4 linked regions of the Homo sapiens genome follow. The protein of the gene in region 3 interacts with the protein of the main gene of each other region in a biochemical or structural test. Each region holds a gene or a part of one and is shown on either strand. Other genes may lie near its edges.

Region 1 (6,877 bases), on a different chromosome or scaffold from region 3:
CCCGAGTAGCTTGGATTATAGGCATGCACCACCATGCCCAGCTAATTTTTGTATTTTTAGTAGAGATAGGGTTTCACCTTGTTGACCAGGCTGGTCTTGAATTCAAGCGATCTGCCCATCTCAGCGTCCCAAAGTGCTGAGATTACAGGCATGATCCACCGCACCCAGGCTTCTCCCTAGGTAATCTCATTCGTACCTCTGGCCTCAAATGTCATCTATGTGCCAGTGATTCCTAAGCTTACATCCCTATGCTAGACCTCTCTTCAGAGCTCTAGACTCATATATCCACATAGCTACTTAATTTTGGCCCTGGATGTCTCAAAATTAAACTCTTGATGTTCTCTCTCATATGTGCTCTTCCTTTAATTTGTCCCTTTCATTATTAAATGGTACTGCCATCCTCTTCCAGCCACTAGCTGCTCACGCTAGAAACACTGGTGTCATTTCAGATATTTCCATTTTTCTCACTAACCAAGTCTAATCCTTCAAGTTCAAAATATAAACATAGAAATGTTCCATTTCTCTCCATCTCTACTGCACCCACTCTCATCTTTTGCCCAGATTACAGTGATAGCCTCCTAACTGGTCTCCTTGTATCCCATTTTGCCTTCTCCAGCGCAGTCTCCAAACACTAACTTCAGTGACCTTCTGAAAATACTACCACGATTATATCATTCCTGTGTTTAAATTCCTTCTACTGCTTCCCACTTCACACAGGATAAAGTCCAAAAATATTAATAAGAGCAACCACATACTTCCTGACCGGGCCTCTGCCCACCTCCTGAACCTCATCCCTTGCTTACTGCATTAAGGCTCCACTGCCTTTCTCAATCTCTCAACCGAATAGGCTCTTTGCCTGCCTCAGGACATCTTCCTAAAATTTTGATCCCTCCATATTACACATATGAAGTAGTATAAGGCTAGATTATGCTTTGGTAGCAAATAATCCCATCTAACTAGCTTATGCCTAAAACGGTGTATGTATTGCTCACATCACAGTCTGACATAGGTCAGGTGGCTCCTTAAAGAATTAAGTGGAAACTCAGGGGTTCAGAGTCCTCCCAGTCTGTGGCATACCCACATTAAAAATGTGGCCTTTGTTACAGCAGTTGAAAGAGAAGAGTGTGAGTGATTATGCAAGGAGTTTTCTGGTCAGGCCTGAAAATGTTATATATCATACCAATAGGATCTGCCCATACCCCATTGGCCAGATCATAGTCATATGACCCTAACCTAACTGCAAAGGAGGTAAGAAAAAAAAAAAAAAAGTCTTCCTGTGTGTCTAGGAAGAGGAAATGAGATTGGTGAACATCAGGCTACTTTTTGCCACATCCTGGTTAAAACCTACTCATTTTTAAAGTCTCAGCTTAAATAATACTTACTTACAAAGGTCTTCCAGCTCCTCCAACTTAAATTAGGCATCCCTGATACATTCTATTGTAGCACCCTGTAATTTTCCTTTACAGCATGATCACAATGGAAAGTTTATATTTCTTTATGTGATTAATATTTATATCTGTTGCTAGACTGTAGGCTCTATAGGAGCAAGGACTGCATCTGTTTTGCTCCCACTGTGTCTCTAGCACCTATTACAGTACTTGGTATATAACTGGTATAAAAGTTTTCGAGTGAACAAATGAACAGTTGCACACAGTCATTGCCTGGCTCCAAATAGCACATGACTTTTGCAGGAGAAAGACAAGTAAGTAGGCAGTCATGGTTTAGTGTGATGATAAATGTTCCAGGCAGGTAAGCCCAGGGAGCTGTGAAAGCAACCTGAAGGAACTTGCAAGGCTTCTGTGTTTTGTCTTTCACAGCAGTCGAATCCAGGAGTCTGCAAACTATGGCCTGTAGGCCAAATCTGGCTCATTGCCTGTTTTTTAACTGCCCTTGAGCTAAGGATTGTTTATATATATATATATATATATATATATATATATATATATATATATATATATATTTTTTTTTTTTTAGACAGAGTCTCGCTCTGTTGCCCAGGCTGAAGTGCAATGGTGTGATCTCGGCTTACTGCAACCTCCGCCTGCCAGATTCAAGCAATTCTCCTGCCTCAGCTTCCTGAGTAGCTGGGATTACAGGCGCCCACCACCATGCCTGGCTAATTTTTTGTATTTTTAGTAGATTCAGGGTTTTGCCATGTTGGCCAGGCTGGTCTTGAACTCCTGACCTCAGGTGATCCATCTGCCTCAGCCTCCCACAGTGCTGGGCTTACAGGTGTGAACCACTGCGCCTGACCTGTTTTTATATTTTTAAGTGATTCAAAAATAATTAAAAGAAGAATATATTACGATACATGAAAACTATGTGAAATTCAAATTTCAATGTCCATAAAAAATATTCTATTGGAACACAGCTACTTCTTTTATTTATTGTCTATGACTGCTTTTGCGCTACAATGGCAGAGCTGAGTAGTTGTGAAAAAGGTCATACAGCTTGCAAATCCTAAAATATTTACTATCTGGCCCTTAATAGAAAAAAGTGTGCTGACTCCTGATCCAATCCATGCTTAGTTTAAAAGATCACATCTATCTGAATTACGTCCAACTGTACATCTTTAAGTTTCTGCTTTTTCCCATTCTCGTGTCTGCTACTAGAAATCAGGTTCCCTTTAGTTCTATCCTTGCAGCAGGATTCCTGCCCTGCTATCTCTCTCCTCTTTTCAGTTCATCACTGTGTACTAAAAAAAATCTGCACTCTTCAGCACAGCATCCCTAGTTCCCCATTATCTTACCACACCTCACCTTGTCAGCTGTATCTCTTACATCATACTTTCATCTAACCTTATCAATCACTTAACCCACCCTTGCCTTCTCTGCTGTAGGCCAATGCTCACAGTTACTCTCTCTGTGTGGAATGTCTATTGCTGGTATTTCTCTCTTATCCATCCTTTACGTTGGTTATCTCAAATGCCTCCTTGCCCTAAAAGCTTTCCCCAGTTCCTCGTCTGGGAATAATTATTGCCATCCGTGCGAGATTCTCTAACGCTTTGTACGACTGCTTTATTTCAAATTCTGCTTTATAGTTCTTTTGTGTACACACACAGATTGTTTCTCACGTTCTATTGAAAGCTGCTTAGGGGAGGAATTGTATTCTATTTTGTTAATCTCTGCATCCTTTCGGCGCCTAGTAAGAGTCTTGTACGAAACAGAAATGTCTCTCCTTCGTAAAATTCCTCATCGGGAGCTGGGACTGTGAATTTTTGTAACGTTTAAGAACTATCTGTTATTTAAGAACAAACACTCTGCTTAACTTGTTTAGGGTTCACTAGAGCGAGTAAGACCTTTTTAGGGCACGCCGTCTCGCTGGTTGTCACACACGCATGGATCGCTGCCGGGACCCTTAGGTTTGTCTGCAAACACGTGGGTGATAAGCGCTACCCTCCAGGCCCCTCCTCTGTCCACGGTGATTGGCGGACCAAACGTTCCAATCATCCCTCCCCGCCTCTTTCGGCAGTAGCCAATCAGAGACCCCGAGCGCCTCCTGACTACTAGACACTGTTTACTAACAGATCGAAGCTGGGGAATAAGGGGTGTGACCGTTCTGGGGAGGTCAGGGAAGGGAAGGTCTTGACTGCGAGTGCGCACCAGAGGAAATGGGCGGGGCAGAGCTTTGGGTCTCACCAATCGGAGTGGCGGCGCTCCTCCCTCTCCTGCCTCCCCGCCAAGCAACAACAATTCGAGGAGCGAGGCGGGGAGGCTCGTGAAACGTCACAGCGTACTGCCCAATGGGAACCGGCGTTGGCAGACGCGCGCGCCCTGTGTCCAATCAGCGAAGGCGGCTCGAATGGCTCCCTTACCTTGCTGGCTGTGGGCGGAGCGGCCTGAGGAGGCGGCGGTGGAGCAGGGGGCGGTTTGGTTGCGCGGTACTAGCGGTGCCCGCCGAAGGGGGAGGAGGCGAGGAGCGAGCCGTGCGGCCAGAGCGGGAAAGAGACTCGTCTTTGCGTCCGAGTTCTGGAGCCGCCGCACCCCGACTCCTGGGGCCGCGGCAGCGGCTGCGAGGGGACGGGCGTCCGCTGTCTCCTGGGTTCCCCTCGTAGCGACCCGCGGGATCGGAAAAAAAGGAGAAGATGGAGGAGGAGGGTGGCAGCAGCGGCGGCGCCGCGGGGACCAGCGCGGACGGCGGCGACGGAGGAGAGCAGCTCCTCACTGTCAAGCACGAGCTGCGGACTGGTGAGCGACCCCGCCCTCTGCCGGCCGGGCCCGGCGCGGGGGCGCGCCTGAGGGCACGCGGGTGCCCGCGCGGGGCTGGGGGCGCGGGGCCGCAGCCGTGGGCGCGGAGGGGCGGGCCTGGGGCGGGGCGTCGCGGTCGGGGCGCGTGCCCCGGGGGTCCCGGGAGGTGGGGGCGCGCCTTGGGGGAGGCGGCCGAAAGTTTTCCCCAGCCCGGGAATGAGCGGCGGGCACCAGGCATCGGGGCCAGCGCAGCCGCCGACCGCTGCCCGTGGCACGCACCTCCGAGGATGTCGCTGCTCCCCCTTCCCGCACAGGTGACACACGTGTGTCTGCGTCCTGTCAGGGCGAAAGGTGCGCCTGCCTCCGCGTGGGGCGAGCGGCGCTTTGTTTTGGAGAGTGTCTCCCTCCTCCGCCCCTCTGGTCCCCGCGATGGGGGGTCCCGGTGGGGCTCTGTGGAGCCATCCCCTAAGGTGCTGGGGTCCTGTAGGAGATAAACGGGAGGTTTCGCCTCGGGCTTTTACCGAGTCCAGTCTAGAGACAGGAACAGGAATCGCCGGCTCCAGGGATTGAGTGCCTTTATTCTCACTTATCATGAAATACTATACTTGGCCTTGAATTTCCTTCAGAGGTCCCTGGAGATGATGGCTTTAGAAATTTAAAGCTCCAGGTAAAAGGAACTAACGAGCAGGCTTCAGCGCTTACGTTCTAATGTTTGAGATCACTAGCGTTGTCCTAAGCTTTATAACTAATTAAATGTATTCGTGGTGTAGGTTCAGGTTGTTCATTTTGGAAAATGCTTATTCAGACCAATCAGTACAATTTGGATTTATATTCTTGGAGCCCAGTCTCGTATTGTAGATATATTAATACTTTTTTCTCTGAACAGATAGTACATTTTAATGAGTCGTTCGTTATTACTAGATATGTTTGTGAGCGTTGAAGGTTTTTGACAGAGCTGCTTTGGCATATTGGGATTTTTTTTTTTTTTTTTCAGACAGAGTTTCGCTCTTGTTGCTCAGGCTGGAGTGCAGTGGCATGATCTCGGCTCACCGCAGCCTCCGCCTCCCGGGTTCAAGCGATTCTCCTGCCTCAGCCTCCGGAGTAGCTAGGATTACAGGCATGCGCCACCATGCCCGGCTAATTTTGTATTTTTTGTGGGGGCGGGGTGGGGGGGGCGGTCCTCTCCACGTTGGTCAGGCTGGTCGCGAACTCCCGACCTCAAGTGATCCGCCCGCCTCGGCCTCCCAAAGTGCTGGGATTACAGGCGTGAGCCACCGTGCCCGGCCGGGTTATTATTTAATTGTGAAGGCACAAAAGCTTAAACGGCAGGATTCAGGTGTCCACTAGTACATCTTGTTTCTGTTTTGAACAGATTGGAAAGTTAGCTCTGTCCGTCAGTTCTTTCAGTTTTTGTTATTTCTACTGAGATTGCCTATAAGCATTCCATTGGGTGCCAGTGTGGTGACTTAATTCAAGAGAGATGTCAAATTCATGCTTCTTAATTCAACATTTGTAAACATTGTTTTTTTGGTCATTGTGAATCTGTTATACATCTTGAGCCAGCTGTTCCATATTTTTGAGTTCCTAACATAACCTGTATGAATTCAGGTGATTTGGTTTTTCTTCTCTCAATTTCATAGACAACTGATATTTTCAAAAGACCCTGACATGGTTTACTCAGTATACATTTATTCGGATTTGTGCCACACTCAGTGTCAGGTGCTTTCTGGTGTGAAGATTTTGAATTTTTTTCTTGTCTTACATAACGATCCACTGATTTATATGTATGGAATCCTACTGTACAGCAAAAGCTACTTGAAGTCATATGCTTCTCAGCCATCGACTGTGGTGCAACAAGCAGCTTTTTGCTAAATGACCAAGGAGCAACCTGCTTGTTATTAGTAGTTAACCAACTGCTTGGTTTCTGGATTTTGCAAACAATGCTAGTTTTGTAGAAAACAATGAGTACTGCTTTATTTCCCCCTCTCTTCTAACTGTGTGAATCATCAGCTTCAAGTTCGCATTTTAGAAATTTTTCTGATGGATGGTGAGATTATACTGAATTCATTAGTACTGTTAACTGTCAAAGGAAACGAACAATCATTTTGATTTATTACTGAACACTGGAACAACTGACCGGATATAGTGGTCAAAAACACTGTTAAAATATAACTTGAAAGAGTTGCTCATCTTCAGCCAACTGCACTTCTTTCAGCACATGATCTATAATAGGCACCAGAGTAATTTGATCTGATATGGTCCCGTCTCAGAATGTAGATAAGCATCTAGTTATATCAGGCTGGCAGTTGGTGGTGGCTCATTTGTGCAGAACACTTTATTGTATTCCATAGGATGAATGAAAAAGCAAAAAACGTCCCATGAAAGGACATGGAGTTGGAAGACATGATTCTAAATCCCGTCTCTGCAGCTTAATATGTAGACATCGGCAAGTCACTTCACCCTTTCAGATTCACATCTTTAATCTATAAAATGTGAGAATTGAATGAGACACTGTTGGAAAAGTGCTAAGCGGGTTGCTTGGCATATAGTGGGCCCTTAGGAAATGTTGGTTGAATGTATATATAAAAATCATTCCATAATAGTATCTTATCTTGAAGTGTGTGAATTAATCCAGTGTAATTTGGGAAACAAATCACTCATTTAGTGTTTAGCCTATGTCACATTGCCTG
Region 2 (7,025 bases), on a different chromosome or scaffold from region 3:
GATAACTTTAATTTAAGACAGCATTGAGAACTACTGGTGTAGAAACTCGATAAAACCAACACCTGTGATCCTACTGTATTTGACAGTGTCTTTAAAACATCCAGTGTGTCTTTTTCCTGATCCTGTCATATTTACTTTCTCACACCCATTTACCATTTAACCACTATTTTAAATTTTGTATTTGTGATGCCTTGGTGTTTCTTTATGGTTGTATTAAATATGTGCTTACATTCTTCACAACATATTATTTCAGTTGGTTTTTGAACGTTAAGTGAAATTTTCCAGTATGGACCCTTTTGCCCAGCTTGTTTTCAATGAAATATATCAGAGAGTCATCCACTTTGATGAGTATAACTGTAGTTTGTTCATTTCATTGCAATATTGTAAGGTGTTACAAGTATACCATAATTTCTGTATCTTTTCTGCTTTTAGTTGACATTTTATTTCTACTTTTTCTAGTATAAACAGTTCTAAGAACATTCTTTGTACATGTCTTCAGGGCACATATGAAAGAATTTTTCTGTGGTATATGTTTAGGAAAGACATAGCCAGAGTACAGGGCATACGCATTTTCCATTTTACTGTATAATACCAGTTATTTCTCAAGGTTTTTTGGTCTGGTCTTTTTTTTCCCCCGCTAAGTGACAGGGTCTCACTGTGTCGCCCAGGCTAGAGCACAGTGGGGGATCATAGCTCACTGTAGCCTCAAACTCCCGGGTTTAAGCAATATTTCTACCTCAGGCTCCCAAGTAGCTAGGACTACAGGCTCATGCCATCACTCCGGGCTGATTTTTTTTTATTTTGTAGAGCTGGGAGTCTACAGGCTGGTATTGAACTCCTGGCCTCAAGTGATCCTCCCACCTTGGTCTCCCAAAGTGCTGGGGCTATAGGCATGAGCCACCATGCCCAGCTGATCTTTCAATATAAATTATTAGTCTTACTGAAATTGGTTTTGGGTATGGCATGATGTAGGGTTTCATTTCAATTTCTTTCTATATGGATAACCAGTTGTTCATCCCCATTTAATTAAAAGCTCATTCTTATACTGCCAGCTCTATCATCATAAAATCTTGTTTCCAGTATACAGGTGGATCTGTTTCTGTGTTCTGTATCATGTTTCCTTGTTCTGTTTGTGTCTCTACACAAGTACTGCAGCATCTTTTTATCATTGTTGATAAAACAATTTTTATCAGTTGTTTTTGGCTGTTAGTAACAGTGAACATAAATAACAGTACTTCAGATGAGATAGAAGCTTATTTTTCAAGAGAAGAACAGAAGTGGGCAGCTCAGATATTATTACTCCTCAGTATCATAAGGGACCTTGTCATTGTTAGTTCATGGCTTATATCTCAAAGGTCACATCAAGGTTCAATATATCTATTAGGGTCACAATTATATCTGTGTTCTAAGCAGATAACAGGAGGGAGGATGGGAGCAGAGAACACAAAGCACAATTCTGTGTGCAGCCTTCTTGGATATCTCATTGAACAACTTCTGCTTGCATCTCATTAACCATCCTTCGCTCTAAGGGAAGCTGGGAACTGTAGTCATTTGGCTAGGCAGATAGCAATCCAGGATAAAACATTGAATTTCCATTATTAAGGAAGGAGGAGGCTTGGGTGATCATAGTTATGTAGCTTTATGTTAAGTCATGATACATGGTTAAACAGATATCCTCTTCTTCTTTTTGGCTATTTTTGGCCCTTCACAGTCTTAGAGAAATTTTAGAATCAGGTTTCAAGTTGCATATGCATCATACACACACAGTGTTGAGATTTTGTTTGAATTGCTGAGGGTCTATTGGTGCTAAATTCTGTTTCCTCTTCCTTGAAAAACAACTGTGTTGGGTATCTAATTTTAGGTTGGCAATTCTTTTCTCTCAGCACTTTTAAGATTTTGTGCCCTTGTCTTGTGGATTCCACCATGGTTGGCCTAGACTTTTGATTCTCAAAGTGTGATCTTCAGACCAGGAGCATCAGTATTACTGGAGAACTTATTAGAAACGGAAATTTTCAGGTCCTTCCTGAGACCTGATTCAGAAGCTCTGGGAATGGTTCCCAGTAATCTGTTGTAACAAGCCCTATAGGTTATTCTCTTGCCACTGTACTAATCAGACTCATCTTTTGATGTTAGAAGGAAGCCTCTTCTCTGAGCATATGGCCACCTACAAAGTGAACAGAATTAGTATCCTATTGCTAAGGAAGAATGGTGAGGACAGTTGTTGGGTAGGCAACTTGTGTATGTCATTTATAAGTTCAGTGGAGAAAATATTTTGTTAGTTATAAGAGATAGAGGAAAACCCACATTTAATTTGTTAATTATAAGAGATAGAGGAAAACTCACATTTATTTTTAAGTGATAGACACTTTATATACCATATTTTAGTTATTTTTAACAAAGTGAGGTAGATTGTGTTGCTTCTATTTAGAAATAAGAAAGCTGAACTAAAGTTCTTATAACTTAGCCAAAGTTAACCTTAGAGTATGGATTTGAATGTATGGATATGGATACAAATTTCCCTGTATGTACTTTCCACTACACACTTAAGTAACATTTAACAGTATTATCTCATGGTTAAGTAGGCTTTTTTTTTTTCTCGTATCATACTCAGATATTTAATATTATTAGTCCTATCTGTATATAATTTATTTAGAACATTAAAACTATTTCTAAGCTTTTCATATTCCCCAGTCTAGACCTCTTGCATTTTCTACTTATGTCATAGGCTAACTGTGATCTCAGACGGCAAATAGATGAACAACAAAAATTACTTGAAAAATACAAAGAACGATTAAATAAGTGCATATCAATGAGCAAGAAACTTCTTATTGAAAAGGTAGGCTAAAAGTTGAGTAAATTTTCGCTTTCCCTTCATTAGCCCCTTTTGCTTTGTATGCTTTTATAAATTAATGAATACAATTGAGTGATGATTTTTTTTCTCCTTTTCAGAGTACACAAGAAAAGCTGTCAAGCAGAGAGAAGAGTATGCAAGATCGATTACGCCTCGGGCACTTTACAACAGTTAGACATGGCGCTTCATTTACTGAACAATGGACAGATGGTTTTGCATTTCAGAATCTTGTGAAGTTAGTCATTCTTAACATTTAAAAGTTTTTAGTATTCGTTTGGGTTTTCATTACTTTAAAAGATTATAGATTTGTAATTATGCTCTCCAGTTCCTCGCTACTCTGAAATCATAGAATTTAGTACCTTTGAAAGGGATATGAAACCAAGAGTATTACAGTTTTAGCTTAGTAATTTCTTGATTAATTAGCAGTCATCTATAGAATGTAATATATTATTCTAATTCTGACTTTCCGAGATATTAATTGAACCTTTAGCTTTACAGATGATGTTTTGAGAGGGAAATTGTTGAAAATTTAATTTTCACTGGAAGATTTGTGTGTGTGTTTATTTCCTAGGATTTTCCTACTTAGTTTTTTCCCATTCCCCAATCCTTACATGTTAATGTTCAGCACTTGCCTGCTCTCTATTCCTAAGGGAAAAAACTTCTCTTTTGCCTCAGATATAATAACTGATTTATCAGTTAAACTGAACATGTGGCTTTAGCGTTTCTGAGGTAAACTCTATTTATTATTTATTTATTTTAATTTCAACTTTTATTTTAGTTTCAGGGAATATATATGCAGGTTGTTACAGGGGTATATTGCTTGATACTGAGGTTCGGGGTACAATTGAACCCACCACTCAGGTAGTGAGCATAGTACCCAGTAGTTTTTCAATCCTTGCCCCTGTCTCTGCCTCCTTCATCTTTGTAGCCCCCAGTTTCTATCATTCTCATCTTTATGTCCATGTGTCTCCAATGTTTAGCTCCCACTTATACATGAGAACATGCGGTGTTTGGTTTTCTGTTACTTTTCAGATCAAACTTTTAAACAGAGGAATTATAGTTACCATATTTTCTTGAGTTCAGATGGTGGTAGAAAAGGATTTATTGGCTGTTTATGTGTTAAGGAGTGCTAAATATGCTACTCCGTTTTTGGTGGAAAATTTTTTTAAACCTGAAAATGGGGAGTAATGCCAGCATGAACATCAGCTTTTCCAGAGTATCCAGTTATTTGAAATAGAGGCAGAACTTACTTTCACATGGTATCACACCAACATTGCTGTTCAAACACTGCCTCCTAGGACTTGCCACAGAATGGCCTTCTCTCTCAGCAGATTTATTCAACTTTTCTTCAACATATCTGTGCTAGTTATACCACAGTGAAACAAAGGATAATGTCCTTGTGATATTAGAGAGTTTGGGTTTCAATTCTGCAGATAATGGGACTTGTTAAAGGTTTACATATAGTGTACGTGATCGGAATGATATCTACAGTGATAGTTGTAGAATAATAACTGATGGTAATGTGAAAATATTATTAGAGGATGAATGTTATTGGTAGTTAAGATGGAGGGGTATCCAGATGAAAGGTGATTAAAGCATGAACTAACATATCAACAGTAAAGTGGAAAGCAGGAGAAGATAATTTTTTAGTGTTTATGAGCAAGAGGCTCTGCTACTAAACCCAGACCGGCAATTGTCCTGCAATGAATAAAAGAGACAGTTATATAATTAATATGAATGTTCTGAAATATAAATTCTACTAGTAGTTCCAATTTCTCCTCTTAACTGTCAGAAAAGAGGCCACAGGTGCAGTGGCTCACGCCTGTAATCCCAGCACTTTGGGAGGCCGAGTTGGGAGGATCACCTGAGGTTGAGAGTTTGATACCAACCTGGCCAGCAGGGTGAAACCCTGTCTCTACTGAAAATACAAAAATTAGCCAGGCATGGTGGTGGGCGCCTGTAATCCCAGCTACTCGGGAGGCTGAGGCACGAGAATTGCTTGAACCTGGGAGGTGGAGGCTGCAGTGAGCCGAGATCATGCCACTGCACTCCAGCCTGGGCGACAGAGTGAGAGTCTGTCTCAAAAAATAATGTCAAAAAAGAAAATAATTACTTGTATGTCCTGACTTTCACTAATAAGCATTTATTGAGGACCTACTGTGTGTATATCAAGCCGTTTATAATTGGTGATATAATCCAGAGTGGTTAGAAGATGAGAAGAGAAATAAATAAAAGTAATAATATTAATCTCTAAACTGTATAGTCATCCCTGAGTAATCAGCTATTAATATCTATTCCAGTAATTCTTTACTTTCCATTAATATTTTAATCATTAGGATTATTATTGCTTATTTGCATTTATACCATCTTGATTGTGCCCTAAAATAGCCTTAAGATTTACTTATTAAAAATTGAAATTTATTCCTGCTTCTAAATGAAAACCGGATTAAAGTCTTGTTCTCACTTTGCTATTCTTGAGATTTTTCTCTACCCTTTCAATCTTCTACCTAGATTCTTCTTGATTTTTTTCACTCCTATCATATTCTGCTACTTTATCACTAAAACCATAGGGAAGGGGATGTGTGTAAGGTCAATTCTGCATTAGCAAAGTAGGAGCCCTTTAGTTGATGTCAGTGGTTGGGGAGAGGAGGGCATGAAATATTTGACTTGCTCTAAGTATTGTAACCATGTAGGATTTGAAAATTTTTTATTGGCATAGTGAGGTGACCTGAAAGAGAACATGGTTACTGTTAGAATAAGCTTAAGGTGTTGTATGATAAGTTGGTTTTAAAAAGCTTCACTGTTAACTACTTTATGCTCTGCTCAAACTGCTAAAATATCTAATCTACATTTTAATAATAGACATGGTATCTATTCGTTTTTAGAATTAGGGAGCTATTTGCAAAATTGTTTCAGTTTCTTGAATGGGAAGCATTGATTTTATTTTTGTTACTTTCCCATTTTTCAGAGCCATGCTAATTTTTCTTGCTATTTTCTTGTCTTTTTCCCCTTAAATTATCAAAAAAATTTTTCTCATAAATTTCTTATATTAAGGTTAATTTGTCTCATTTCAAAACACCAACTTCCCATTACCAATTTTTTTTAACAAAAGTAGATTTAGAAAATAACTCTCTTCACATTAAATTCATATTTGCCTTTTGTAAATTTGTTTGCAAATACTGTGGTGAGATGCATGTGTAACATATACCCCATACTTTAATAGTTTGGGGTATTGTTTTATCTCATTTCATTCAAGAAACATTTACTGAGCAAAGGTAAGTGATGATCACTACACTAGGTACTAGGGATACAACAGTATAAATACTGTATAAATAGACACCATCTGTGTTCTTAGGGAGTGATGTCATCTAACCGGACACTTTCTGATAAAGTATCTATAGGAATAATATTTATTAGAAAGAGTGAGGTGGGGAGATAGAAGATCCCATGAAATTATATATGGCAACACATCTTTCCCTAATCTAGGGGTTTAGAGAATACCTCACTTAAAAAAATTCTTTCAAATGAGACCTGAAGGATAAGTACAAATTGGTTCACAAGAGTGGAACCAAAAGGTTACGAATGTATATTTTATGGTTTTTCATGTTTTTTATGCATTTTTTCCAAGTTTAGCCTTGAAAAGTAATGGAAGGTTAATATGGTTTTATTTGTTTATTTTTACACAGGCAACAAGAATGGGTGAATCAGCAAAGGGAAGATATTGAAAGGCAAAGGAAACTTCTAGCCAAACGCAAACCTCCCACAGCTAATAATTCTCAGGCACCCTCTACCAATTCTGAACCAAAACAAAGGAAAAACAAAGCAGTCAATGGAGCAGAGAATGATCCCTTTGTTAGACCAAATTTACCACAACTGTAAGCCTCCATTTAAAATTTTTCTTTTTTAAAATTGTTGCCAGTGAGCGTGAATGTTACTAATGGATGTTATTTATAATTAATACTTAGATAGCAAAAATGATTAAGACCAGGAAGGAAGGCAGTATTGAAAATTTAGCTCTAAATTAATAGCCCCAAATATCTGAATTCTACCGTTTTAAGCAGAGATTTAACAATTCTCTTTTAAAACAGAGACCTAGGTAGCTAAGAGGTTACCAGAATTCACCCTTCTGTGTCTGAATCAGTTAGGAATCAATTAAAAGTTTTGGATTATTCTA
Region 3 (7,025 bases):
AGCGCTTCCCGACTGTATCTGCCACGGATTGCACCGTGCGCTCCGTGCGTTCTCCAGAGAGCTCACTTCTCTTGAGATTAGGCTCCCATGTAACGCTTAGCCTAAAAACACAGGCTTTGCAACCTATGGAGAGTGCTTGCCATGGGCTGGGAGCGGAGGGGGCAGCAGAGAGAGCACAGGGCATTTTTAGGGCATTTTTCGGGCAGCGAAACCGCTCTGTCGAGGCTGCCATGGTGACTGAAGACCACGCACTTGTCCAAACCCACAGCGTGCACAGCACCGAGAGAGCCCTAAGGCAGTGTTGCTAATAAGGGAAACTGTTCGGGGTATGTGGAAACTAATTTCTGCACAGTTTTTCTGTAAACCGAAAAGTGCCATGCAAAACGAAGACGATTAAAAACAAGAACAAAACCACAGGCTTCTAATTCCAAGATCTCAGTGCAGCAGACATTTTATGCTCGTATTCGATAAGTGCACTTAGGAGCTGCAGACCTGGGGACATCCCCTTGGAAGCTCTGAATGTCAGAGGGCCCGCTACTCCTAGCCCCGGAAAGGGCTCACGGTGAAGCAAAGTCCGCCGCCTCCCTCAGTGTCCCAAGATGGGCCCATTCCCCAGCTACGGAGCCTCTGGGAGGTGTTTTCCATCCTCTGAAACACTTCCTGAGTGCTCTGGGAGATCTGCATCATCTAGAATATTTTCAATCTCAGGTCTATACTTCTTCACCAACTAGGACAGAAGTGGGGAGGCTGGGCACCCGGGTGCTTCTGGCAGCTGATGGATGCTAGCCACCCTCAGCAGGCAGGAGCCCGTTAGGAAATGGACGGCGGCACAGGGCTCCCAGTGCAGCCCACGGTTCTCTGTGTCTTTCCAGGTGACGCCTCGCACACCACCCCCGTCGCAGGGAAAGGTAAGACCTTGGAATGTTTTGATTGATCATCACTTTTCTGATAGACCTTCTCTAAAATCCCATAATGTACCAAAGAGAGAGTTAGGCTCCGAGCTACCAGAATCCATCCCAAAACGTGTTGCCAGGCAGCTCCCAAGTAGAACAGGTCGGCAGATCCATGCACCCCTCCTGTCCCTCCCGCACCTGCACAGCCGCTGTGGCCCTGAGCCTGCGGCCCCCCTCGGAGCTCCGGGTGGAACCTGTTTTTACCACCTCAGCTCCACTGTGCTTTGACTGTGTTTCCTGTTGATTGAAAGGACTTTCCCTTCACTGACCACCATGTCATTATTTCTCTGTCTTCCTCATGCAGGGGAGAGGACTGTCCCTGAGCAGATTTAGCTGGGTAGGTGACGAACGCACTTCCATCGGCTTCCTCTTCCGTCCCAGTCCTCACAGCCCCGCAACTTTTGTGTTCTGCTCTGTTTCGGTTGCTTCCTGGCCTCCTTTTCTCTCCTCTCGAGACCTCTCTGCCCACAGCTGGGATCGGGCCGCCTTGTCTTCCACTGGGGAAATGAAACGTGGTCTTCCCTTCCGGAAGGTCTGGTCTCTTGCTTCTGTGCCGGGGACCCAGCCCTGCAAGGCCAGATCCTCTTCTCCCAGAGGGTTCCCAGGCGACGTGACTGGTCTCCCTCCCAGGGAGGGAGCAACACCACGTCCGAGAAAATGTTTAACTTCCTCCAACACAACCAGTGCGAGAAGCCCCAGGAACCCGCATGTGGAAGTGGGACTGGCTGGCCCGTCTCAGTGACCCCAGATGCTGACACTGGGAAAATGATTCTGCTGATGAACAGAAAAAGAGGCTAAATAGAGTTGCTCGATTTATAATAACCTCATTAATCCAAAGATTTTTGTTTTGTATGTGTTTAAATAATAATTAAAACATAGATATCAAGCCATCCAGAAAATCTTCCTTAGGAATTTTAGGCTGGTTAATACTGAAAGCAAACTTTCAAGGAAGGTTTAAAATGGCCAATTTGAACTTTCTAGTGAAAAAATTTGGTGTCTGAGCCAAATTAAAATGCCAATCATTATATTCTAACCAAACTTACAGACTTTAGTTACTAGCAAATACCAGATATGATTCTTACTGTATAAAAGTTATAATTTTAGAATAAAATGGAGGAATAACCACCAACGTATTGTAGATAGGTTGTGTCTGTCTCCGAAACTGCAATGCTCTCATACGCTAGAACAGAGCCTACCTACACTTTCTGCTCAATTAATAAGCATCATATAAATGAATGAATACATTTTAAAAGAAAAACAACAAGGAGAAAGAACAGGAAGAAAGAACAGGGAAAGAAAACAGAAGGTGGGGAAGAGGAAGGAAGAGAGGGAGGAAGGGGCAGGGTACTTGAGAGACCATGAGGATCCCAGATCAGTCCCACACATGATTACACTGAATTATGAACTAAGATATTTACCGAAACGTTTTCCATTAATGCATATTTGACTTGCTTTTTCTGACCTAATGAATTTGCAAAACGATGACAATCATGTAGCAAATGTACATGGACTAGTACTCACAATTAATTTTTTATTTTCTATGCCAGCAGGAGACAAAGATGATAGAAGAATGAAATTCATTTTTGACCCAGAAATCTTATTTTAGCTACTGCTTTATCTGCTCTTAATTTTCTAGGAGTGGACTTTGGGGCCGTCGTGCCGGATCCTCCCTGAATGTGGAGCGATGGGGGGTTGCACACAGGCCGTTCTGCCCCAGCAGCTAACAAGAAAGACCCTTGCATTCCTCCCTGCATCTCTCCCTTTTGGGTCCTACTAATGTCTGTTGAATTTCTCTTTTTTCCAAAGCAAAATCCTTCTCTGCATTTTGTCTGCTTGTCTGTTTCCCAGAGCCGCAGGACTCTCTCCTTGTCTGGAGTTCCAGAGAGCCCCCACTTTCTCTTTCTAAGCTGTGTTGTGTGTTTCCTGGTACATTCTAGGTTCCCCAAAGATAAACATGACTAAGGATTGGAAAGGAGGAAAGGCCGCGCAGATTGTTAATCTGAAAGTCAATCCCCGGATTTAGCTCTCAAAAATGCTTTATTTTTGGAGAAAAGCAATAGAGTAAGACAGAAGGACTTAACGCTTGCAGGGAAGTGGCTTTCTGCCATGTAGAGCCAGGCTGGCAACCTGCCCTCTGCCATCAGGGAGTGAGCATGAACCTGGAAACCTCTAGGACGCAAGAGCGAGGCTGGCTGTCCCCTCGTGTGCAGTGCTTAGACCTTCTTGCCACACATCCCGTCCCTCACCTCACTGGATAGCCCCCGAATCAACTGTTCACACGAAAGCAGCTGCCTGGTTCTGAGTGGCCATGCTCACTCCCAAGCACAGGCTGAATGAAAAGAAAACTGTGCAAGTAGCTTGTATGGTGGGAAGCCCCCAGCAGAGGCTGAGGGTGCAGCCAGGTGCTCTGGAAGCCTTGAGGCCTCTGGTGTCATCTTCCTCACCTCTAAATAAGAGATGGGCTAGGTTGGTCAAGGTCCTCCCTGTCCTAAAACACTTTAATGAAATGGAAGAAAGGCTGCAGGCTGATAGAGGAGGGACAGTCTGGTTTGGTTCCCTCAAGTCTTCAGGAGAGGGCTCAAGGACAGTCTCCCATTTCTTGTTGGCAAAATGTAAAGTGCAGTCTGGACCCTGTCCATTGAGTAGAGACTCAGGAGGCCAACCAAGATCCCTGAAAAGCTAACAGCGTGGTCAGCCTTCCCACAGACAGTGCACCCACCGTGGGAGGACACTTCGCCCCCCATTGTTAACGTCCACCGCGCCCAGACTCCCACAGCGAGCTCCTTCCCTTCCTCCCCATGTTTGCAGTGGAGTTCCCACTCGAGAAGACAGCACAGTAGCAAGTAGAGGCTGGTCCTGGGACACTCGCACCCATGTGTGTCAGGAAGCCCCTGCGGTCACACGGCCCATGAGGAAGCCAGAGGGGCTGCTGGGGCTGATGAGGCCAGGGCAGGGCGGCCTGCTCTTCCATAAATGACAGCTGGCACCAAAGCCCAGAGCTGGCAGCCTCCACCTGAGGAGTGGCATCTCCATGAACGGCTTGTGTTCTCGCACAGCCCCATTGCGTAGATGAGGAAACTGAAGCTCAGAGAGGTTCCTGCCCTTGCCCAAGGCCACACAGCCGGATGAGCTAGAAAGGTGCTAGGGGACTGGGAGGTGGGGGAGCTGAGACGCTGTCCCGCTGCTGCCAGGATGCGGCCGCCCCCCGTGCCAGCCAGGCCTGCCTCCTCCCTCTGTCCGGCTCAGCAGCCCCGGCCTCCTGTTGCTCCCAGTCCGAGCTATGGCCAAGGGAGACTGATTCCTGCTCACCCTGGGAGAGAGCTCAGGATTTTGTCTCAAAACCTTATAAAAGATACGAGGCTCGACATTTTACTAAGGCCGAGGACTCTTGATCTCCCAGACAGATCCTAGAACCACAGGGCACATGTGACCAGAATCCAATCTGTGCAAATCAATCAGCAAAAGGAGCCCCCAGCAAAGGCGCAGGCCGGGGCCTCCGGGGACCGGCACCTACACAGCGCACAGCCCCCCAGGGTCCGAGTCCTCCAAACCCGTGTAGGCAGGAGCCTCCTTACCTTGATTTGCTTGATGTTTGCTAATCTTCTCTTGAACACCCCACAGCGTGAAGGTAAGCAACTGTTCCCTAAACGACTTAGATCCTTAAAATATGTGTGGTTGGGCCGCATATCTCATGAGAGAGCCTCCGCCCAAACCAGAGCCCTCCTCTCTCTGCGGCCAACACCCTGGTAGACCTGGGGGAGCAGCCTCTCCCGCCCCCACCCCCTCAGCGTGGTGCTGGCCCGTGGCTCCTGAACCACTCACCAGTCCAGTCCGGGGCCTGGGCCCTTCCCCGGGGCCCTGGTGGCAGCTCCCAGTGGCTCAAGCAGCGTGCCCAGCACCGCGGGTGGAGGTTGAGCTCCGTGGTCTTCTCTTGCAGGGGGCCGAAGGCCAGAGACCAGGATTTGGCTACGGAGGCAGAGCGTCCGACTATAAATCGGCTCACAAGGGATTCAAGGGAGTCGATGCCCAGGGCACGCTTTCCAAAATTTTTAAGCTGGTAAGGTACCCTCTGCTCAGCTCCACTGAGCGGGGACTAAGGGCTCCCAGAATCCCCAACTAAGCTGAGTACAAGGGTGGCTGCCGCCTCTGGCTCAGCCGCACTGTACCCTGGACGTGCTCTGTCCCAGCAGGCGTGCAGGGGCTCAGGTGGCATTGCCCACCCGCATTTACGCGTGGATTTCCTCCGAGATGCATGTGAAGCCGGAGGTGCTTGAGGAAGGGCTGCGCCTGGGCTGGTTCAGGGGCCCTGGAGCAGGCGACTGACCTTGACTCTGGGGCAGGGCCCAGCTGGAGTCCAACTTGCTCATGCCCAGGGGTTGGGGCCCTCAGGGAGCTAAAGCAGGAGTCAAGCAGACGTGGGTGTCGGGGGGAGATCCCTGGAGCCACGGGAGGGAATGCCCAGGAGACCTCCAGGGAGTGGGGAGTGTCCCGTCGGCTCATGAGGACCTGGAACCAGACCCAGGACGAATGCCAGGCCCGCTGTTTATAAGCTCTGTCTCTGAGACTTGGTTTTCTCATCTGTAAAATGGAGGTAACCCGCCCACTCAGCTCACAAAATCGCTGTGAAAGTAAAAGGTAGTGACAAACACAAAACGCGGCTGGCAGGTGCGCGGCTCGGATTCCTTAGATAAGCAGTCACCTTTATTATTGTTAAACGTCACCCAGAAAACCCTTAACTCTTAGACAGCGGCTCTCATTAAGCAAAAGGGGAGGCACATGAAGCTCCAGGCAGGGCCGGGAGGGAACCGTGAAGCCAAAGGCTCTGGGAGCCCCCAGGCACCTGCGTTTGCATTTTCATCCTGGAGGAGACCAGGCTTCTGGGGCTGCTCCCCGGGGTGCAGAGAGGAGGGGTCTTTCTTGGTGTGTAACATACTCATTGATTCAGTCACCTGACCTTTGACTCCATGTATTTTGTTGAGTCTGGATGTGTGGTGTGCTCTGCCCAGCAGCGGGGATCCACATGAGCACAGACATGGTCCCCCCGCGTCCTTGGTGAGTGCAGAACCTCTGCCGTGAGCCTCGATTCTGGGAGGTTCTGGGAGGTTCTGTGGACAACAGGCAATTCAGGGCACAGCCCCTGCTCTTAAGGATAGCCGGTCTTAGGAGAAGCTTTTAATATGTGAAGTGAGCAGGGAGTAACTGAGCTGCTAAGTAAGCAGCTTTATGTCAGATGAAGTGGTAGGCAGGATCCACTCCTCAACGTAAATTCTGAGTTAAGAAAAAAATTCTCCAAATATTCAAGTCTCAGGGCCATCATGCTGTACATTGCCGCAGTTCTGGGATGTGGCCACAAGAGGGCGGAGATGAGGCTCCCCGGGGAGCAGTGTCTGAACCCAGCACTGCAGTCAGGACGGCCCCGCCCCACCTGGCCAGCACGTCACCTGCCTCTGAATCGCCTGGGATGCACGCCCAGACCCCTATCTGCGCTCCGCCACAGCCTCACTGAGTCAGAATGTCCAAGGGCGAACTAGGTGTTGCTAGTTGTGATGATTTTGCAGACACCGTGCTCACCTGGGAAACACGGATTCATCCCATCTGGAAAACTAATTACTCCACTACCAGCTTAAGGACTGTTAGACACACCGGGAGAGCTGAGTGCTGGCTCAGAGTTGATGGGAGGGCCCAGATGAGTGAGGGGCCCCATTTAGCAAATATTGTCCTTGCAATATATGCAAGGCTTACAACCAGTCACTCAAAGATGCTTGCAAGGCCAGAGCTTACCAAGACCACCCTGAGGAACAGAAAGCTGCATTTAGATCTGCACATTTACTGTGTGCAAATATAACCAGTGTACTATACACATGTGTTTCCTGAAATAAGTTCAGTATTTTCCCTGAACTTTTTTGTAAGAAGCTTTTAAAAATTATTTAATTTCTGTAGAGTTCAAGGGAAGCTTCTATGTATCAAAGCAAATTTCAAATCATATGGTTGTAATTAAATTTTACTGCATAAAAAGTTCATAACTGGCCTACTATGGCCATATGGCTGAATTAGTTGACTTGGAGCACTTCC
Region 4 (7,025 bases), on a different chromosome or scaffold from region 3:
GGGCTATTTCCCGCAAAATCTGCTTCCCCCACCTAATGCTGTGGCAGGGGTTAGAAAGGGAGACTGCCTGGACGCCCTGCTTGGTTGCTGTGGAAGTGTGCGGGAGTCTGTTTTTTCTTTTTGTTTTCTCCAGCCCATCCTTCCGGAAATCACGAATGTCCCGTGCCCAGAGCTTCCCTGACAACAGACAGGAATACTCAGGTGAGTTCCACAGAGCCTGGGTGGGTAATGCAGGGTGTCTGGGTGGGGCCTCAGGTGGCTCTGCTTCGACTTTTCTGAGTCAGTAGCTCTCCTTGGGCTTGCTGCTTTGAGGTCTCAGGTGCCTTGGGGACTTGGGGGCTTAAGTGGCTCACATTGACCTACCCAGAAGCCAGTGATTCCCCTGTCTTACTCAGATCGGGAAACTCAGCTTTATGACAAAGGGGTCAAAGGTGGAACCTACCCCCGGCGCTACCACGTGTCTGTGCACCACAAGGACTACAGTGATGGTGAGTTCTTCTTCACCTGCTCCCTGCTGGCTGCCTCAAGAAAGGACAAGTTGCCATGGGGAGGGTGGGTTCGTCCATGCAGTGCCTGTATTTTCCTTCATTCCTGAGGATTTGTGGCCCAGACTTGAGGCATGGGAGACAGGAAAAAAACAAAAACAAAAACAGGGAAGATAGTATTTGTAGACCAGATGCTGCCACTGGGAACTCTGACCTTGTTTGAAGCCAGTGGTGTGCTCCAGGGGCACCATCTCTCCCATGTCCTCTTCTGCCCCACAGCAGCAGGTGGCCTGGGCCCTGTAGAGGGGTAAGGAGTAGGATACAAGGAAATCAGTGCCTTCGGGTGTGGCTTGGCCTTGCAAGCAATTGGGAGCCTGTTGGCCAGCCATACACCTTCCCTTTGGCCAGATCTCCCTGAACCAGACTACTTCCTAATTTCTGCTTTTGTCCTGATTCTTGGAGTGCTTGGGACAGCAGCCTCTGTGGAATGAGTCAGGTGGGAGTGCGGACGGGATGGGCTGGAGCTGGTATTATCTATCACTTCTGGCTGAGACCTGGTTTGTATATTCCGCCTTGTAGCCCGGGGTGTCTCAGACCTGGTTTGTACGTTCCGCCTCGTAGCCTGGGGTGTGACTTGCTCTCCTCTGGCCCTTGCACCCTTTCAGGCAGAAGAACATTTCCCCGAATACGGCGTCATCAAGGCAACTTGTTCACCCTGGTGCCCTCCAGCCGCTCCCTGAGCACAAATGGCGAGAACATGGGTCTGGCTGTGCAATACCTGGACCCCCGTGGGCGCCTGCGGAGTGCGGACAGCGAGAATGCCCTCTCTGTGCAGGAGAGGAATGTGCCAACCAAGTGTGAGGAGCTGTCCCTGGCTAGGAGGAGACTGCCCAGGTGGTCTCAGACAAGCTACGGGGGCAAACAGCTGGGCCCCTGGGACCCTTAGGCTCAGCAGGTGGTGGCTTTGGCCCAAATGCACCACATGGGATAAGCCTTGGAGTGTCTGAAGCCTGGCTCCACTATTGTGTGACAAGCCTCTTCTCCTCTCTGATCTTTAGTTTTTCCATGTTTAAACTAGGGAAGAGCACACCCTTCATCCCTGCCATATTAAGATATTTAGGGGCTTTGGAAGGAAATGCATTTGATCAATGCAGAAGAGCATTTAACCATGACTTCAGCCAATCCTCTGCTTCTTAGGACTCTGACTTCAGGTCCGAGTGACTAGGGCACTGGGCTTGCTCCAGATTGTGGTGGAGATGCTCTACTAAGAGATGATGGGTGCTGGGTGAGGGGGAGCCTGAGCCAGAGACCCTGTTCCTGGAGAATGAATGGGATATTCATAAATAATGTACACAAAGTAACTCTTTCCTTCTGCTCTCCTGTAGCTCCCAGTGCCCCCATCAACTGGCGCCGGGGAAAGCTCCTGGGCCAGGGTGCCTTCGGCAGGGTCTATTTGTGCTATGACGTGGACACGGGACGTGAACTTGCTTCCAAGCAGGTCCAATTTGATCCAGACAGTCCTGAGACAAGCAAGGTACACTTAACCCGTGGTCTGACTTCAGTTCCCTCCTTTCAACAAAAATGCCTGTCTTACCACACAGAGTAGTTGCCTGAGATGCTGTAGGTTGCTTCCTCTGTCATTCTTCCCAAACTCCCTTTCTGTCCATCCTGGTCCCAGCCACAGGGTGAAAGGACTGTGGTCTGAAGAGCACCAAGCACCTGGAGGGGAGGGATTGGGTGTAAGGAACTAAGCTGATGCCAAAGTACCAAGTAACCCAAACTGAGAGGTGATGACCTGTGACACAGAGGGGACTCCCTCCCCTAGACAAGTATCTCTCCCCAGCTCTCAGCCCAGGAAGGAGCTGTGGGGCTCCTTCACTTGGTCCAGCTCTAGAGGAGGAATCATATGGCCTGTCTTTGCAGTTCAGCTTTCAACGTCGCTTATACTTCAAGTTCTGTGGACAAACAGCAGTTACCTTAACTAAGCACCCACGGCCCCTTCTCCCACCTCCCTGCCTCCTTCCACCCATGGGAGTGCCACCATCCCAAGGCCTGCCCAGCATTGTGGCCAAGAGCTAGACAGTTAAGAGAGTCCCCCTTTTCTCCAACTGCAGTTCCCAAGGCAGATCCCTGTGAGGCCACTAACTAGGGCAAGCTGAGCTGAACCCAGGCGGGCAGAACTAGGGCCCTGAGAGCTGAGGCGACCACTGACCCCTCCCCTAGGAGGTGAGTGCTCTGGAGTGCGAGATCCAGTTGCTAAAGAACTTGCAGCATGAGCGCATCGTGCAGTACTATGGCTGTCTGCGGGACCGCGCTGAGAAGACCCTGACCATCTTCATGGAGTACATGCCAGGGGTACGTGCCCCTTGAATGCATGTGAGACACACACAAAAGAGGGCCTGACCTGGGGGCTGGGGCCTGCAGGAGGGGGGTCACCTTGGATAGGAGTTTGAACACCTGAGGCTCCAGAGGCCCAGAGGAGCAAAGTGAGGTGATGGTGGGACTTGGAGTCAGGAGGGCCCTGCCTCAGGTTGCAGTGGGAGTATGAGATGACAGCTGTCCTAGGTCCAGCACTCCCCTGAGGCATGCAGGGCTGGCCCACTGTCCAGTAAATGCAGCCTTCATCTGGAGCAGAGAGGCCTCCCTGCTCCTGGATTTGGGTGGCGCTCTGCTTGAGAAGGACTTGGGGTACTCTCTTTTCCAAACTGCCTGACAGCTCCTGGCAAAATGCCCTGCCCAGCCAGATAGGAATTGAACAAATCACTCCTTTGCTGCCATGCTGGGGGCTGGAATGGGCTTGCCCCTCCACCAGCCCTCCCCTGAGGGGACTCCTCTGACTTCTTGTGGCCTCCAGGGCTCGGTGAAAGACCAGTTGAAGGCTTACGGTGCTCTGACAGAGAGCGTGACCCGAAAGTACACGCGGCAGATCCTGGAGGGCATGTCCTACCTGCACAGCAACATGATTGTTCACCGGGACATTAAGGGTGAGCAGGGCCAGGATACATGGAGTCCCCAGGACCTGGGTTCAAGTCTACCATTGAGTGCCTGCAGGGGCCAATCACTTAACCATTCTGAACTTTCTGAAAAGTGGGACCCCAGTTGTTTCCCTGAGGAACTGGTGAGATTGGTTGAGCAATATGAGAGAATATTGCCAAGTTCCCTCTACATGTGGGCCTTGGAGATGGTCATTTTGTGCGGTAGATCTGAGACTCCCCTTTGCTAAATCCTTTGCCCTTTGCAGTTCATGTCTAATTCAGTGGTAGCCCTGCCCTCTCCAGCAGCTCTCAGTGACCCGGGGGTGGGGAGGATGGGAGAAAATGCAAGAGGGTCCAGGGTTGCAGCCTCTGCCCTTTCATGCCTCAGGAGCCAACATCCTCCGAGACTCTGCTGGGAATGTAAAGCTGGGGGACTTTGGGGCCAGCAAACGCCTGCAGACGATCTGTATGTCGGGGACGGGCATGCGCTCCGTCACTGGCACACCCTACTGGATGAGCCCTGAGGTGATCAGCGGCGAGGGCTATGGAAGGAAAGCAGACGTGTGGTGAGCACTGGGACATGCAGAACCCATTCTTCCACCCAGGCCATAGTGGCCCCCCATTAGAAACACACCCTGGGGACTTTGTGGTGTGGCAGGAGGGAGTGTGCCCAGGGCCCAGGCTGCAGTGTGTGCAAGGGTATTATTGGGTGCAGTAGCACACACACCACATGGGTGGTGCTCAAAGCACACTCCATTAGAGCTGGGAACTTAGGCCATGGAAAACATCCCTCATGTTTGCTAAATCTCTTAAGGAAGCAGGATCCACTCTGAAGGCCTGAAGGCCTGGACCAGTCTCTCAACAGGAGCAGGCTTCTGTCCCTTCTCCTAGCACTCAAGACAGTTTGCACTTGCTCGACATAACCTTGTGTCTATCCTCTGAAATGGCCCCTAAGTCAGGAGAGCTTCTCCCCTTGGAAAGCTATTGTGGTGGGCTGAATAATGGCCCCCCCAAAGATGTCCACTGCCTAATCCCTGGATCTGTAAATGTGATTGTATATAGCAAAGGGCCTTTGCAGATAGGATTAGGTTAAGGGTTTTGAGATGGATGGATTATCCTGGATTAAGGGTCCTTACAGAAGGGTCTCAAGAGGTCAGAGTGGCTAATAGGAGGTGAGACAATGAAAGCAAGAGGTTGGAGTAATACAAGGAGGGGACCATGAGCCACGAAATGCAGGTGGCCTCTAGAACCCAGGAAAGGCAAGGAAACAGGTTCTCCCCTCAGAGCCTCTGACAGGAACCAGCCCTGCCGCCACCTTGACTTTAGCCCTGTGAGACTGATTTTAGACCTCTGACCTTCAGAACTGTAAGATGATACATTTGTGTTGTTTTCCTGCCTCTAAGTTTGTGGTCATTTGTTAAGAGCAGCTATGGGTAGCTAATACAGTTATTGTAGAGTTCTTTCTGTCAAGTCTAAGTGATTCTCTTTTTCCTTATTTCAAGAAGTACCCAGGTGTGTGGTGAGTGTAGGTCCATGAAGCCCACGTGGACAGACATCCAAGCTGAGGTATCCCTCAGCTTGGCCTGTCCTGCACCTCAGCTTGCTGTGAGAAAGGCGCCTCTTTCTGCAGTGGTGGGCAGGACAGCTGGGAGTCCAGGGCTGGCTGAGGGGTGACACGGGGTTCTCTCTTTCCAGGAGCCTGGGCTGCACTGTGGTGGAGATGCTGACAGAGAAACCACCGTGGGCAGAGTATGAAGCTATGGCCGCCATCTTCAAGATTGCCACCCAGCCCACCAATCCTCAGCTGCCCTCCCACATCTCTGAACATGGCCGGGACTTCCTGAGGCGCATTTTTGTGGAGGCTCGCCAGAGACCTTCAGCTGAGGAGCTGCTCACACACCACTTTGCACAGCTCATGTACTGAGCTCTCACGGCCACACAGCTGCCGGTCGCCCTTTGCTGCATGGCAGGGGGCTGCTGCTGGGCTCAGTGAAGTTGCTGCTTCTCCCAGGCAAGGCTGTGGACCATGGAGTGGCAGCCCAGCCAGCGTCGGTCTGTGCCCCTTCCGCCACTGGGGCTCAGAGCCGGGGTGGGGTGGCTGCAGCCTCAGGACTGGGAGCCCCCAGCCTGTCAGATCCAGGAGCTCCAGTGTCCTGAGCTCAGCGTGGAGGGGTAGGGGCTGGGAACAGTGTGCAAGGCAGCCGTGGGCCCCACCCTCGGGGATGTGTCCTGACACTGCAATTGGCACCGAAGCCCAGAGGGTCTGGGGGCACAAGACTGACGCCAGGGTATGAAGAGTGTTATTTTCATTCAAAGTGTTATTTTGTTTTTCCTTCCAATGTCTGGAGACCACCAGGGCATCTCTGGGCTGGATGAGCTCCCACAAGCCTGAGGGAAAGGCCAGCACTCGCTAGCAGTGGCAGGCAGAGGCCCAGGCTGCCGTCCCCTAGAGTCCCAGGTTGGCTCTGCCAGTCCTGTCCTTTACCAAAGATGAATGAAGCAAATGTCATGCTGCCTTATTCAGGGAAGGAGGAGCCTGTCCTGCCTGTGGCCATGACCCTGCCTCTCCCAGGCAGGGGCCCGCGATGTGGAACTGCTGCCACTGAGGGGGGATCCAGTTTTGTCAATGCAGTTGTCTCTGTTTTACAAGTTGGAGTCACTCTTATGCTGTACCCAGTTTCTAAACTGGAGACTGTGTGTGCCCTCTGGGCTCTGAGTACCCCTGCTTTGGGCTTGGGCCTAGGCTGCATTGAAAAGAGCTGAAGGTTGTGGCCTTTGCGCTCCTGGCCCAGCCTTTGTTCCCCACTGGAGCAGAAGGGGAGATGGACGACACGGTCGGGGCATCTGGCCTGGCCAGTGCCCTGATCCCAGAGAGCCCGAGGAGGTGTCTCAGGCTGCCTGAGTCGTGACCTGCTAGGCCAGAGCCCACTCCATCTGGTAGAAGGGAAAGCCCATATGCTACCACCAGCTGTGTCCAAAACCGCCAGCTCTGTTCTTCCTCAGCCAGCCTCGCCCATCCCCTTGAGGTCTCAGCCCCTTTCCCTTGTAGCTCCTCCCCTGGAGGGGGAATGGCAGCAGGGGTTGGGGAAACAGCATCTCCAAGCAGCTTAGAGTTGGCCATATTTACCTCAGCCTGGGCGCTGGTCCTTTCTTCCGGCCCCTCCCCTCCAAAATGTGCCTATTGCTAGAGCTCCTCCCTCTCAACACCCAGTTTCCTTGGGAGTTGTCATTAAAGGAAAAAAAAAAAAAAAAAAGCCAGTGCCCAGGGATGGGCATCTCCAGGGAGCTGGGGATTAGTGCCAGGCAGCCCTGCCAGCCATGCCTACATCCCCATGGGCACAGAACAAGCCAAAGCCTTCGTTGTATGTTGACGATGCACTTTTATGAATGTAGTTTCTATCGCTGTTTTTAGCCTTTTCACATCATGTAATGTGAGGCCTTGTACTTGTTAATTTATATCTCAGATCATATTTGATGGTTTTTATATATATCAATTCTAGACTGTTACAGGTGACGGACGCCTCAAGAGAGAGAAGAGAAAATGAAAGCAGCTGGTTTTGCAGAA

The links.
Region 1: of the proteins of MBP (region 3) and RPS6KA5, one has a biochemical effect on the other in vitro, tested with the Homo sapiens proteins (one study listed by BioGRID).
Region 2: the proteins of MBP (region 3) and TLK1 form a complex in vitro, tested with the Homo sapiens proteins (2 studies listed by BioGRID, with this or other methods).
Region 4: of the proteins of MBP (region 3) and MAP3K3, one has a biochemical effect on the other in vitro, tested with the Homo sapiens proteins (one study listed by BioGRID).

What each region holds. Positions count from the first base shown.
Region 1 is NC_000014.9:91,057,642-91,064,518, reverse strand, and holds the start of RPS6KA5 (ribosomal protein S6 kinase alpha-5), read left to right. Parts: upstream 1-3,877; 5' UTR 3,878-4,084; coding exon 4,085-4,187; intron 4,188-4,394; exon of another isoform or gene 4,395-4,501; intron 4,502-6,877. UniProt on the Homo sapiens protein: Serine/threonine-protein kinase that is required for the mitogen or stress-induced phosphorylation of the transcription factors CREB1 and ATF1 and for the regulation of the transcription factors RELA, STAT3 and ETV1/ER81, and that contributes to gene activation by histone phosphorylation and functions in the regulation of inflammatory genes.
Region 2 is NC_000002.12:171,045,875-171,052,899, reverse strand, and holds part of TLK1 (serine/threonine-protein kinase tousled-like 1), read left to right. Parts: intron 1-2,725; coding exon 2,726-2,836; intron 2,837-2,949; coding exon 2,950-3,086; intron 3,087-6,537; coding exon 6,538-6,726; intron 6,727-7,025. UniProt on the Homo sapiens protein: Rapidly and transiently inhibited by phosphorylation following the generation of DNA double-stranded breaks during S-phase. This is cell cycle checkpoint and ATM-pathway dependent and appears to regulate processes involved in chromatin assembly.
Region 3 is NC_000018.10:76,982,760-76,989,784, reverse strand, and holds part of MBP (Golli-MBP), read left to right. Parts: intron 1-872; coding exon 873-908; intron 909-1,257; coding exon 1,258-1,290; coding exon of another isoform or gene 1,291-1,695; exon of another isoform or gene 1,696-2,082; intron 2,083-4,574; coding exon of another isoform or gene 4,575-4,581; intron 4,582-4,890; coding exon 4,891-5,010; intron 5,011-5,632; exon of another isoform or gene 5,633-6,058; intron 6,059-7,025. UniProt on the Homo sapiens protein: The classic group of MBP isoforms (isoform 4-isoform 14) are with PLP the most abundant protein components of the myelin membrane in the CNS. They have a role in both its formation and stabilization.
Region 4 is NC_000017.11:63,688,394-63,695,418, forward strand, and holds part of MAP3K3 (mitogen-activated protein kinase kinase kinase 3), read left to right. Parts: intron 1-133; coding exon 134-201; intron 202-395; coding exon 396-488; intron 489-699; exon of another isoform or gene 700-782; intron 783-1,150; coding exon 1,151-1,342; intron 1,343-1,870; coding exon 1,871-2,019; intron 2,020-2,079; exon of another isoform or gene 2,080-2,599; coding exon of another isoform or gene 2,600-2,644; exon of another isoform or gene 2,645-2,687; intron 2,688-2,708; coding exon 2,709-2,840; intron 2,841-3,339; coding exon 3,340-3,469; intron 3,470-3,848; coding exon 3,849-4,026; intron 4,027-5,155; coding exon 5,156-5,384; 3' UTR 5,385-7,025. UniProt on the Homo sapiens protein: Component of a protein kinase signal transduction cascade. Mediates activation of the NF-kappa-B, AP1 and DDIT3 transcriptional regulators.